Regions from separate parts of the Homo sapiens genome. Here region 1 is linked to region 2. The links come from fine-mapping of genetic effects on gene expression. Tissue or cell type: whole blood. Region 2 holds a variant in brackets; the other region holds the start of a gene. All regions are shown on one strand. Distances are from middle to middle.

Region 1 (5,114 bases), 56 kb after region 2:
AAAAGGTTGCACTCTGTATGATTCCATCTATACAACACAGACGTTTGCCAGGAATTAAGAAGCAGTGTAACTACAAAGAGCAACATGAGGGATCCTTGTGGTGATGAAAATGTTCTGCATCTTGACTTTATCAATGTCAGTATCCTGGTTGTGATATTGTACTACAGTTTTGCAAGGTGTTTCCATTGGGGGAAGCTGGGTAAAGGGTACATATAATCTGTCCATATTATTCCTTACAACTGCATATGAGTGTCCAATTTTCTCAAATAAAACATTTAATTAAAATAGTACATATGTGATTTCTCTTGTCCAAACCCTGATTGATAATTTGAACCCTTCATCAGACTGGAAAATTTCTCTTCTATTCCTAGATTGCTAAGTATTTTGGTCAGAAGAGGTGTTTATTTTTGCCAATAGATTTATCTGTATTTTTTAACATAATCATAGCTTTTCTTTAAAAAAAATTTTTATTATTTCTTCCAATGAAGGCTTTTCTCTTTTAAGGTAAATTACATTGTTTGATTTCAGAATGCAAAACCAACCTTGCATTCCCGGGATAAACCCTACTTCATCATGATGTATTAATCCTTTTATAAATTGCTGGATTTGATTTGCTAATATTTGCTTAGGATCTTTATGTCTATGTTTATGAAATGTTTTTCAGACACCTATGGTGTCTGAAAAGTCCTCAGTAAAAATTCATTGAATTCAGACTTGTTTAAATGATACTCTAACTGCAACATAGCTGATGTTGTGGTCCAGACACCCCCTCAGGGCCTAGACAGTCATTCCCTCAGCTTCTGGAGTTGGTTACTGATGATACACAACTGAGTCCTTCTCTGGGGGCCGCCCTCCACCGAGGGAAGCAGTCTTGCCAAAAAAAAAAAAAAAAAAAAAATCACAGCTCCTCCCCAGGTGTAGCCTGTATCCATGACTGGTCAATGCAAGGATAAGAGTTTCTGGCCCCCTTGCTTTAATGTGGAACTACTCTGAAGGGTCATCCTAGGCTCCAAGCATGCCTTGGGATTGGTCAAGGCCTCTGCTGCAACTGTTTTGCAGGCCAACTTCTTCCTCTGCCTACAAATTCCTGCTTCCTTCACTTTCTTACAGGTGCTGATCTTTAAGTTCTCCCTACCTCCACCAATAACCTTGTAGGCAAGCTAATCTCCCTCTTGCGTCCCCCAGGGGCTCAACACAGGACACACCACGTTACCCTGTTTTATTTTTCTTTTCATAGCATTTAACACCTTATACGTGAAATAACCTTATTTACTTAACACTTAAAATACTTATCGTCTGCTGTAAGAATGTAAGCTTACCAGGACAGATCTTTCTCATACGCTATGCACCGCTGTATCAAGCGCCTATGGCAGGGCCTGCAGAACACAGCAGGCACTAAATACTGGTTGTTGAATGAACCGATGAGTCTGGCCCCGCGCTTTTGGTCCTGGGATCACATATCCCCCCTCCAGCTTTTAACACGCACCTGGGAGCTGCGGCTCGGGGTGTGCCCCCGAGTCCCCGCCCCTCAGGCCACGCCCCCAGGCCCACGGAGAGGGCGGGGCCCCGCGGACGCAACGGTGGGCACGATGCGGCAACCCGCCGTTCGGTTGGTGCGCCTGGGTCGGGTGCCGTACGCCGAGCTACTGGGGCTGCAGGACCGCTGGCTGCGGCGGCTGCAGGCCGAGCCAGGCATTGAGGCCCCGTCGGGGACTGAGGCGGGCGCGCTCCTGCTCTGCGAGCCCGCGGGGCCCGTGTATACGGCCGGGCTGCGCGGCGGCCTGACGCCCGAGGAAACTGCGCGGCTACGGGCCTTGGGCGCCGAGGTGCGCGTCACAGGCCGCGGTGGCCTGGCCACCTTCCACGGCCCGGGCCAGCTGCTTTGCCACCCGGTACTCGACCTGCGGCGTCTCGGCCTGCGCTTGCGCATGCACGTAGCGTCGCTGGAGGCGTGCGCCGTGCGCCTGTGCGAGCTCCAGGGCCTGCAGGACGCCCGCGCGCGGCCCCCGCCCTACACTGGCGTCTGGCTAGACGATCGCAAGATCTGCGCGATCGGTGAGCGCCGCGGAGCAGGGCGGTACCTGAGAGCCGAGGTCGGAGCTTGAGGCCTGGGGGCGGGGTCTGACGGGGCTGGACCAACGGAGGTGAGGGCCGGGAGGAGGCGTATCTAGCGCGGGTTTTGAATCACAGCTACCCGCTGCGTTTGAGTTTTTAAGCCCCTTTTCAGATATCGTATATTCAGAAGCAGAAGGCTCCTCACATCTAGTCCAACACGCATTTCTGTTAAGGGAGAGACAAGAGAAGTGAATTGCCAGGTTACGTCCTGCGAATGACAATGTCATGGCAAATAAGGGTGCTAATTTTCAAACTTTTTTTTTTTTTTTTTTTTGAGACAGAGTCTCGCTTTGTCACCCAGGCTGGAGTGCAGTGGCGCAATCTCGGCCCACTGCAAGCTCCGCCTCCCGGGTTCACGCCATTCTCCTGCCTCAGCCTCCAGAGTAGCTGGGGCTACAGGCGCCCACCACCAGCCCGGCTAATTTTTTGTATTTTTAGTAGAGATGGGGTTTCACCGTGTTAGCCAGGATGGTCACGATCTCCTGACCTCGTGATCCGCCCGCCTCGGCCTCCCAAAATGCTGGGATTACAGGCGTGAGCCACTGCGCCTGTCCCCAAGCTTTTTTTTTTTTAAGTATTGGAATCTGTTAAAAGACATTTCCTGGAATCCTCATGATGAGTGCAGCTGCTTGAAGCCACGCACCCCTTCCTTTCATTTGTTTCCTTTTCCCATCTGAGTACAATCCCTTGTTTCTCCAGAAACAAAATTTGAAAACCGGTGATCTAATCCAGTTTTCTCATCGCCCTGAGAGGGACACCAAAGCCCGGAGAGTGGAGGGTATCTACTCTAAGACCCTTTGGCTTGCCTTGCAGGAGTCCGCTGTGGAAGGCACATCACATCCCACGGCCTGGCTCTCAACTGCTCTACCGACCTCACGTGGTTTGAGCACATCGTGCCCTGTGGACTGGTTGGGACAGGCGTCACTTCCTTGAGTAAGGAGCTCCAGAGGCACGTCACCGTGGAAGAAGTAATGCCACCTTTCCTTGTGGCCTTTAAGGAGATCTACAAGTGCACACTGATCTCAGAGGACAGCCCCAACTGAAGAGTACTCATAACAGCCAGGATGCTCCTGCCTTGGGAAGCATGAAGTCTGACTTGAGTCACCTACTGAAACCCAGATTTTAGACCTGGCCTGTCATTCACTGATCATGAAACTAAGGACATACCATGAGCTCTGAGCCACTATTTTCATATGTATCCTGTTTTATTTATATCTTCCCCACCTACCTCAGAGATACTAGATGTGACAATACTGTGAAAAGCAACACATGCTATATAAAACATTAGCACTGCTATTGACAGCAGTGTCTCAGAGAAATTCAGATGTCATAGATTGTTATTTCTCGATTGTTGATGTCATAGATTGTCATTTCTCAATTGTTGCTTCCTCAATACTGTGTCTAACTGAGCAATTCTGGGCTCTAGTTCCTTTGATTTTGTGGGAATCAAATCTCTGAATGGCCCAGGTGAAGGTGATGTGATGTAGTGCTTTTTCATTCTCAAGAGACCTGGGTTCTTTCTGCAATAAAGGGAAAAGGGAAGAACCTTCTAAGAATAAAATGGGATCTTACCTTCCTGGGTTTGATTCCCCAAGTTTGATAATTTAGCAGTTTTTAGTTGGGTTACCCTGAGCTAGGCCAAAGACTGGAGGAAGGATAAGAATAATTTCTCACACTGTACAAATGCCAAAGATAGAAGTGAGTTTTTCTTATATGAGACCTCTAAATTTGTAAGGCTGCGTATTATCTGTTGCTGTGTAACAAATCATCAAAACTTAGTGACTTAACAGTAAACATTAATTATCTCGTTTGTGGGTCAGGAATTTGGGGGAAGCTTAGCTGGGTGTTTCTAGGTTAGGGTCTCACACGAACTTGCAGTTAAGATGTCAGCTGGAACTGCACTTATTCAAAGGCTTGGCTGGGCTGGAGGATCAGCGCTCCATATGGTGCATTCACTTGCGTGGTTGGTTATGGTTGCTGACAAGAGGCCTCAGTTCCTTACCGTGTGGACCTCCCTATAGGGTTGCTTAATTGTTCTCATGACAGGGCAACTGGCTTCCCCTAGAGCAAGTCATGCCAAAGAGAGACAAGCTGGAAGCCACAATGTTTTTTATGACCCAGCCTCAGAAGTCACACAGGCATTTCTGTAGTCTTCTAACAGATGAGCCCTGTTCAGTGTGGAAGGGACTGCACTAGGGCAACAGAAGGTGAGGATTATTAGGGGCCATCTTGAAGAATGGCCACCACAGCCTATTAAGAGTGGAAAGAGCCTCGAATGAGAAGTCAGGGGACCCTGGTTCCAGTTCTGGCTCTGTGGAAAAGTCATTTACTCTCTGGTCTTCAGTTTCTCCTTAAACCAGTGCTGTTCAATAGAAATACAATGCAAGCCACATTGTAATTTGACATTTTCTAGGATCCATGTTAAAAAGGTAAAAGAAATGGGTGATGTTATTTTTATTTTATTTTATTTTTATTTTTTTTAAGAAATGAGGCTTTGCTATGTTGCCCAAGCTGGTCTCAGACTCCTGGGCTCAAGGGATCCTTCTGCCTCAGCCTCACAAAGTGCTGGAATTACAGGTGTGAGCCACCATGCCTGGTCTATGATGTTAATTTTAATATTTTAATTAACCCAATATATAAAAATATCAATATAAAGCAATATAAATGTTTTCTTGAGATATTTCATATTCTTTTTCTCATGCTGAGTCTTCAAAATATAGTGTGTATTTTACACTTATAGCACACCTCATTTTGGACTAGCTACATTTTAAAAGTGCTCATTGGTCCCATGAGGACTGACCATTCTCACATCTAAAGTCCTTTTGAGTTCCCAGGGTTCTGTGGTCTCACTGGCTTCTAGGAAGAAAGGTGAATCCTCCTACATCTGAGGTCTGATTTTTTTTAATGCAAATAATTTATATCAATTATTCAAGCTGAAAAGGACTTTAGAGGTATATTCCTACCCCCTCATTGTAAAGAGATGAAAGCAAGGCTTAGGA
Region 2 (5,203 bases):
CAAACTTGCATACTCCATTCTGCAAAACAAAAGCCGTTTGTTTGTCCAACCCCATCTCCTTAGGAAACTGCTGAGTGAACATTCATTGTTGTTCATTCTCATCTTTCATTATTCATCACAGTATTCCTTACAACAACTAGAGTACTCTGTCCCAGAAGAGTTCTGATATACACAATTTTGCCCACCTTGTTAAATTTCTAGCAATACTTTGGTACCCAGGGATGTTTTGGCATCTGTTATAAACTGGGGTCTTGGTCAGCTGCTCAGCTGACCTGCCCCTTCCTCCAGCTCAGATCCCCATTGTATGACCCTGGGCACGTCACTTCTTTTTTTTTGAGTCAGAGTCTCCTCTGTCGCCCAGGCTGGAGTGCAGTGGCATGATCGCAGCTCACTGCAGCCTCGATCTACTGATCTCAAGTGATCCCCCTACCTCAGCCTCCCAAGTAGCTGGCACTGCAGTCATGCTACCAGGTCTGGCTAATTAAAATTAAAAAAAAAATTCTTCAAGAGACAGGTTCTCTTGCCTAGGCTGGTCTCGTGGCCTCAAGCCCAGATTATAGATCTGACCCACCACACCCAACTTTTACTTTATGTCTTTGGTCCTCAGTTTCCCGTGGTATAAAATGAGAGCTTTAGGCTAGATTATCCCTAAAATTCCTCACAATTCCAGCATTCTATAATTTTGCCTATATTATAAACAAAATGAGTCATTGTGTTACAGGGAAGGGGTCCCAATCCAGACCCCAAGAGAGGGTTCTTGGATCTCAAGCAAGAAATAATTCAGGGTGAGTTTATAAAGTAAAAGCAAGTTTACTAGGAAAGTAAAGGAATAACGAATGGCTACTTTATAGACAGAGAAGCCCCAAGGGCTGCTGGTTGTCCATTTTTATGGTTATTTTTTGCTTATATGCTAAACAAGGAGTGGATTATTCATACCTTCCCTTTTTAGACCATATAGGGTAACTTCTTGACGTTGCCAATGGCATTTATAAACTGTGACAGCGCTGTTGGGAGTGTAGCAGTGAGGACGACCAGAGGTTACTCTTGTCGCCATCTTGGTTTTCATGGGTTTTGGCTGGCTTCTTTACTGGCAACCCGTTTTATTAGCAAGGTCTTTATGACCTGTATTTTGTGCCGACCTCCTATCTCATTCTGTGACTTAGAATGCCTAACAGTCTGGGAATGCAGCCCAGTAGGCTTCAGCTTTATTTTACCCAGCCCCTATTTAAGATGGAGTTGCTCTGGTTCACACTCCTCTGACAATGGCATTTGTTACAAAAAAAGATAATAAGCTAAAAATGAGTGTTCCAAAAAGTTAGATTTTTAATGACTTTGAGGCTAAAGTTAAGGCTTATTATACTATTATTATTACATTTAGGTTAAAACTGTACCTTGACATAAAGAATTTGATGCTTTGGCCCAACTCAGGTATGAAATATCAATTAACACTTATTAATGGCCTATTATGGGCTGTGTGCTGTACTCCATGTGCTGATCCAGAAGAAAGAGAAAATATCACCAAGCCTCAAGTCTGAGGAACTTGTAACCATAACAATAATTAACTGATAAGATGACAAAGCAAGTGATCAATACTTGAGTAATGTACCAACTTGTTCTGAAATGAAATTGGCTGGGTGCATTATAATGATGTTTATTGGTGCAGGAATAAGATTTTTCAAAGGAAATAAATGAGCTGAGTTCTTTAGAATTCCACATATGCTTCACTTATTTAAAAATGAAAAAAAAAATCTGGCGATTAACAAGGTAATGAAATTTGATAATATTGGACCAAAAAGACAATAACTGTGTTAGAGTCAGTGAAGAAAAACAAAATTCACACTTAGGACTGACCCACCAAGTTGAAATGCTGTGTGAAGTTATTAACTGCTTCCTTAAGTAATGTGTCTAATAGTGCTTGGGGCTAGATTATCAGGCTGAAAGGGTAGATTAATCCACTGCCCCCCACTAGTGCTATGCTCTAGAAATGTCTTTCTCCAAGAGTCCTAGTACCTCTGAGATTCCTTACTTCTTTTTTGAAACGGAGTCTCACTCTGTAGCCCAGGCTGGAGTGCAGTGGTGTGTTCTCAGCTCACTGCAACCTCTGCCTCCAGGGCTCAAGCAATTCCCCTGCCTCAGCCTCCCAAGTAGCTGGGATTACAGGCGCCCCCC[CA/A]CGGTGCCTGGCTAATTTTTGTATTTTTAGTAAAGACGGTTTTGCCATGTTGGCCAGGCTGGTCTCGAACTCCTGACCTCAGGCCTCCCAAAGTGTTGTGATTACAGGTGTGAGCCACCGCGCCTGGCTGATTTTCCTTACCTCTGCCACTGGCCCTGCCTGAACACTCTTCTCATAACTTGTCTGAATACTTCTCAGCCTACACAGCCTAGCTTAAGCACCAGCATCTAGTGAAGTCTCTGGTGCATGAAATATTAGCATGTGTGAACTATCCTCTCTGCTGAATGGACAGAGCTGATTTTAACAATCTCTGACTATCTGTACCCCACCTCCTATAGCCTGTAATTACAGTCACCCGCAGGAACACCTCTCCATCACCTGGGAAGAATAAACACAATGCCTAGATCAACTGGGAGGGTGTGTGAATGCAGATCAGTCCCAGGAAACATTTGACCAATTGCATTTTCTCTCTCTCTGCCTCTCTTTGGTCTCCCTCCCTCTTCTCCCTAACCATTTTCTTGGTCTCTTTAAACTTCTACCTCCTTGTAGAACTCCCTCATCATGGAAGAGGAAGCACGAGATCTTTGAAAAGCTACACATCATTTGGAGACTCTTGCGTCCTTCAGCTCCTGCAGAATGAAACATCACATGACAAACCAAATCTTCTTTTAAAATATTAACTACTGGTCGGGTGTGGTGGCTCACGCCTGTAATCCCAGCACTTTGGGAGGCTGAGGCGGGCAGATCACCTGAGGTCAGAAGTTCAAGACCAGCCTGGCCAACATAGAGAAACCCCGTCCCTACTAAAAATACAAAAATTAGCCAGGCATGGTGGTGCATACTTGTAATCCCAGCTACTTGGGAGGCTGAGGCATAAGAATCACTTGAACCCAGGAGGCAGAAGTTGCAGTGAGCTGAGATGGCATGACTTCACTCCAGCCTGGGTGAAAGAGTGAAACTCCATTTCGTTTTTTTGTTTTGTTTTGAGACGGAGTCTCGCTCTGTCACCCAGGCTGGAGTGCAGTGGCACCATCTCGGCTCACTGCAAGCGCCGCCTCCCAGGTTCACACCATTCTCCTGCCTCAGCCTTCCGAGTAGCTGGGACTACAGGCACCCGCCACCACACCCGGCTAATTTTTTGCATTTTTAGTAGAGATAGGGTTTCACCGTGTTAACCAGGATGGTCTCAATTTCCTGACCTCCTGATCCACCCACGTTGGCCTCCCAAAGTGCTGGGATTACAGGCGTGAACCACCGCGCCAGGCTGTGAAACTCTATTTCTAAATAAATAAATAAGTAAATACCTACCACCCAAAACACAACTTCTTCATTGTGTCACTGTGCAAACAAAGTCTCTGTCTCCTTACTCCTTTCCAAAGACCACACTTCCTTGTTGAGACAAGAGAGAAAACCCAGATTTGCCCCTGTAGTAGGTTGACTAGTAGCCGCTAAAGATGTTAGATCCCAATCCTTGAAACCTGTAAATGTTATTTTATATGGAAACAGTGTCTTTGCAGGTGTAATTAAGTTAAGGATCTTGCAGTGAGGAGATTATCCTGGGTGGGCCCTAAATGTAATCACACGCATTACATATGACCTTGGCCTGACACCTTAATTTTGGCTGAGTGAAAATGATTTCAGATTTCTGACCAACAGAACCGTGTGAGAATAAATTTCTGGGTTTTTTGTTTGTTTGTTTTTAAAGAGATCAGGTCTTTCTCTGTCACACAGGCTGGAGTGCAGTGGTGCAATAATAGCTCACTGCAGCCTCAAACTCCACGGCTCAAGGGATCCTTCCACCTCAGCCTCTCAAGTAGTTAGGGCTACAGAGGTGCATCACCATGCTCAGGTAATTTTATTTTATTTTATTTATTTATTATTTTTTTTGCAGAGATGAAGGTCTCATTATGTTGTGCAGGCTGGTCTCAAACCCCTGGCCTCAAGCAATTCTCCTGCCTCTGCCTCCCAAAGCTCTGGGATTATGGGCATGAGCCACTGTGGCCCGGCCCATGACTTAACTCTAGTTGTAGTCCTTGTGGTTAGCAACAGAGGTGGGGCAGATCCAGAGGTGTATGGTAAGAACACCTGACAGCAATAACTTAAGCTTACCCTGAGAATGACCCTGTATGGCAAACACACCTGAATGTGTGTTCTGAGCTAGGGAATTGGGAAGTGGCCAAACCACAGACTCGTTTCTTGTCAATGAGGAACATTTGAGCCTCTGGCGCATCCCGTGGAACACGGGCTGTACAGGGGATCAAAGCATTGGGTTTAGGGTTAAATGAAGGTTGTCAGGTGGAGGTTGTTAGGGGGAGGGTACTAAGTGAACATGCTATAGAAACTGCAGGCCTTTTGCAAGCGGCTGCAATTCTCCCGCCCAGCCTACCACCACTGGACCTGTTCACCACCACTGGACCTGTTCTCTTGTCCAGCCCGCCGCTGCTGGACTCTCCCCTGTATGTAAGCCCCCAGTAAAACCCCATGTCTCATTTGCTGGCTCTGGGTCTCTTTTTTGGCCTCTTGAACCTGGTGCCATCCCCACTGGAGTTGATAGGGGTTTGGCACAACATGAGGGAGGCACATTTTATCTTGAGGGTCTGAGTTCTCTGCATTGCCTTCAAACAAGCGAGGGAGGTGGGGGTGCTAGCTCTTAAGAGGAGAAGGGCACAACTTCTGAATGCTCAGAGGATTTAGAGGAGTCTGGGAGTTCAAAATATACCCACATGTCCCCATCCTAAGTGCCAGAGTTCTACTAACCTTAGCGTATTGGACCTATCGTGGTCATTTAATTTTCTCTGGAGCTTGATGGCTGTATTAATTCCCAGCTCAGGTCTTCAGCTTTTTCTGCCTTCTTGCTGTAGGAATTGAAAGCCTCTTTGTAAGCTTTCACATTTGGCTTTCATTGCCTGTTAAATGCCTGCAGCTTTTTATTGTCTTTTTCTAACATATCCATGAATTTAGCAATAGTCACTCAATTCCATTATAGTCACTCGATTTCCATAATAGAAACAGTTAGTTTCTCCTATACCTCCC

Evidence for each region. PIP is the estimated chance that this variant, and not a neighbour inherited with it, causes the effect.
Region 1: LIPT2-AS1 starts here. The variant in region 2 is fine-mapped to the expression of LIPT2-AS1 in whole blood (INTERVAL, PIP above 0.99).

Annotation. Positions count from the first base shown.
Region 1 is chr11:74,490,179-74,495,292 of GRCh38, reverse strand. It overlaps LIPT2-AS1 (LIPT2 antisense RNA 1), which reads right to left and starts at 1,913. Exons shown (of 2, transcript NR_171028.1): 1 at 1,320-1,913. LIPT2 (lipoyl(octanoyl) transferase 2) reads left to right here and starts at 1,569. Exons shown (of 2, transcript NM_001144869.3): 1 at 1,569-2,055; 2 at 2,929-4,774. The coding sequence starts at 1,590. The coding sequence ends at 3,158. RefSeq lists silencers at 1,334-1,583, 1,694-1,803.
Region 2 is chr11:74,546,019-74,551,221 of GRCh38, reverse strand. No RefSeq gene overlaps it. Among named protein-coding and RNA genes, the nearest start is that of POLD3, 44 kb to the left of the region's middle. The variant CA/A (reference allele first, on the strand shown) is at 2,170.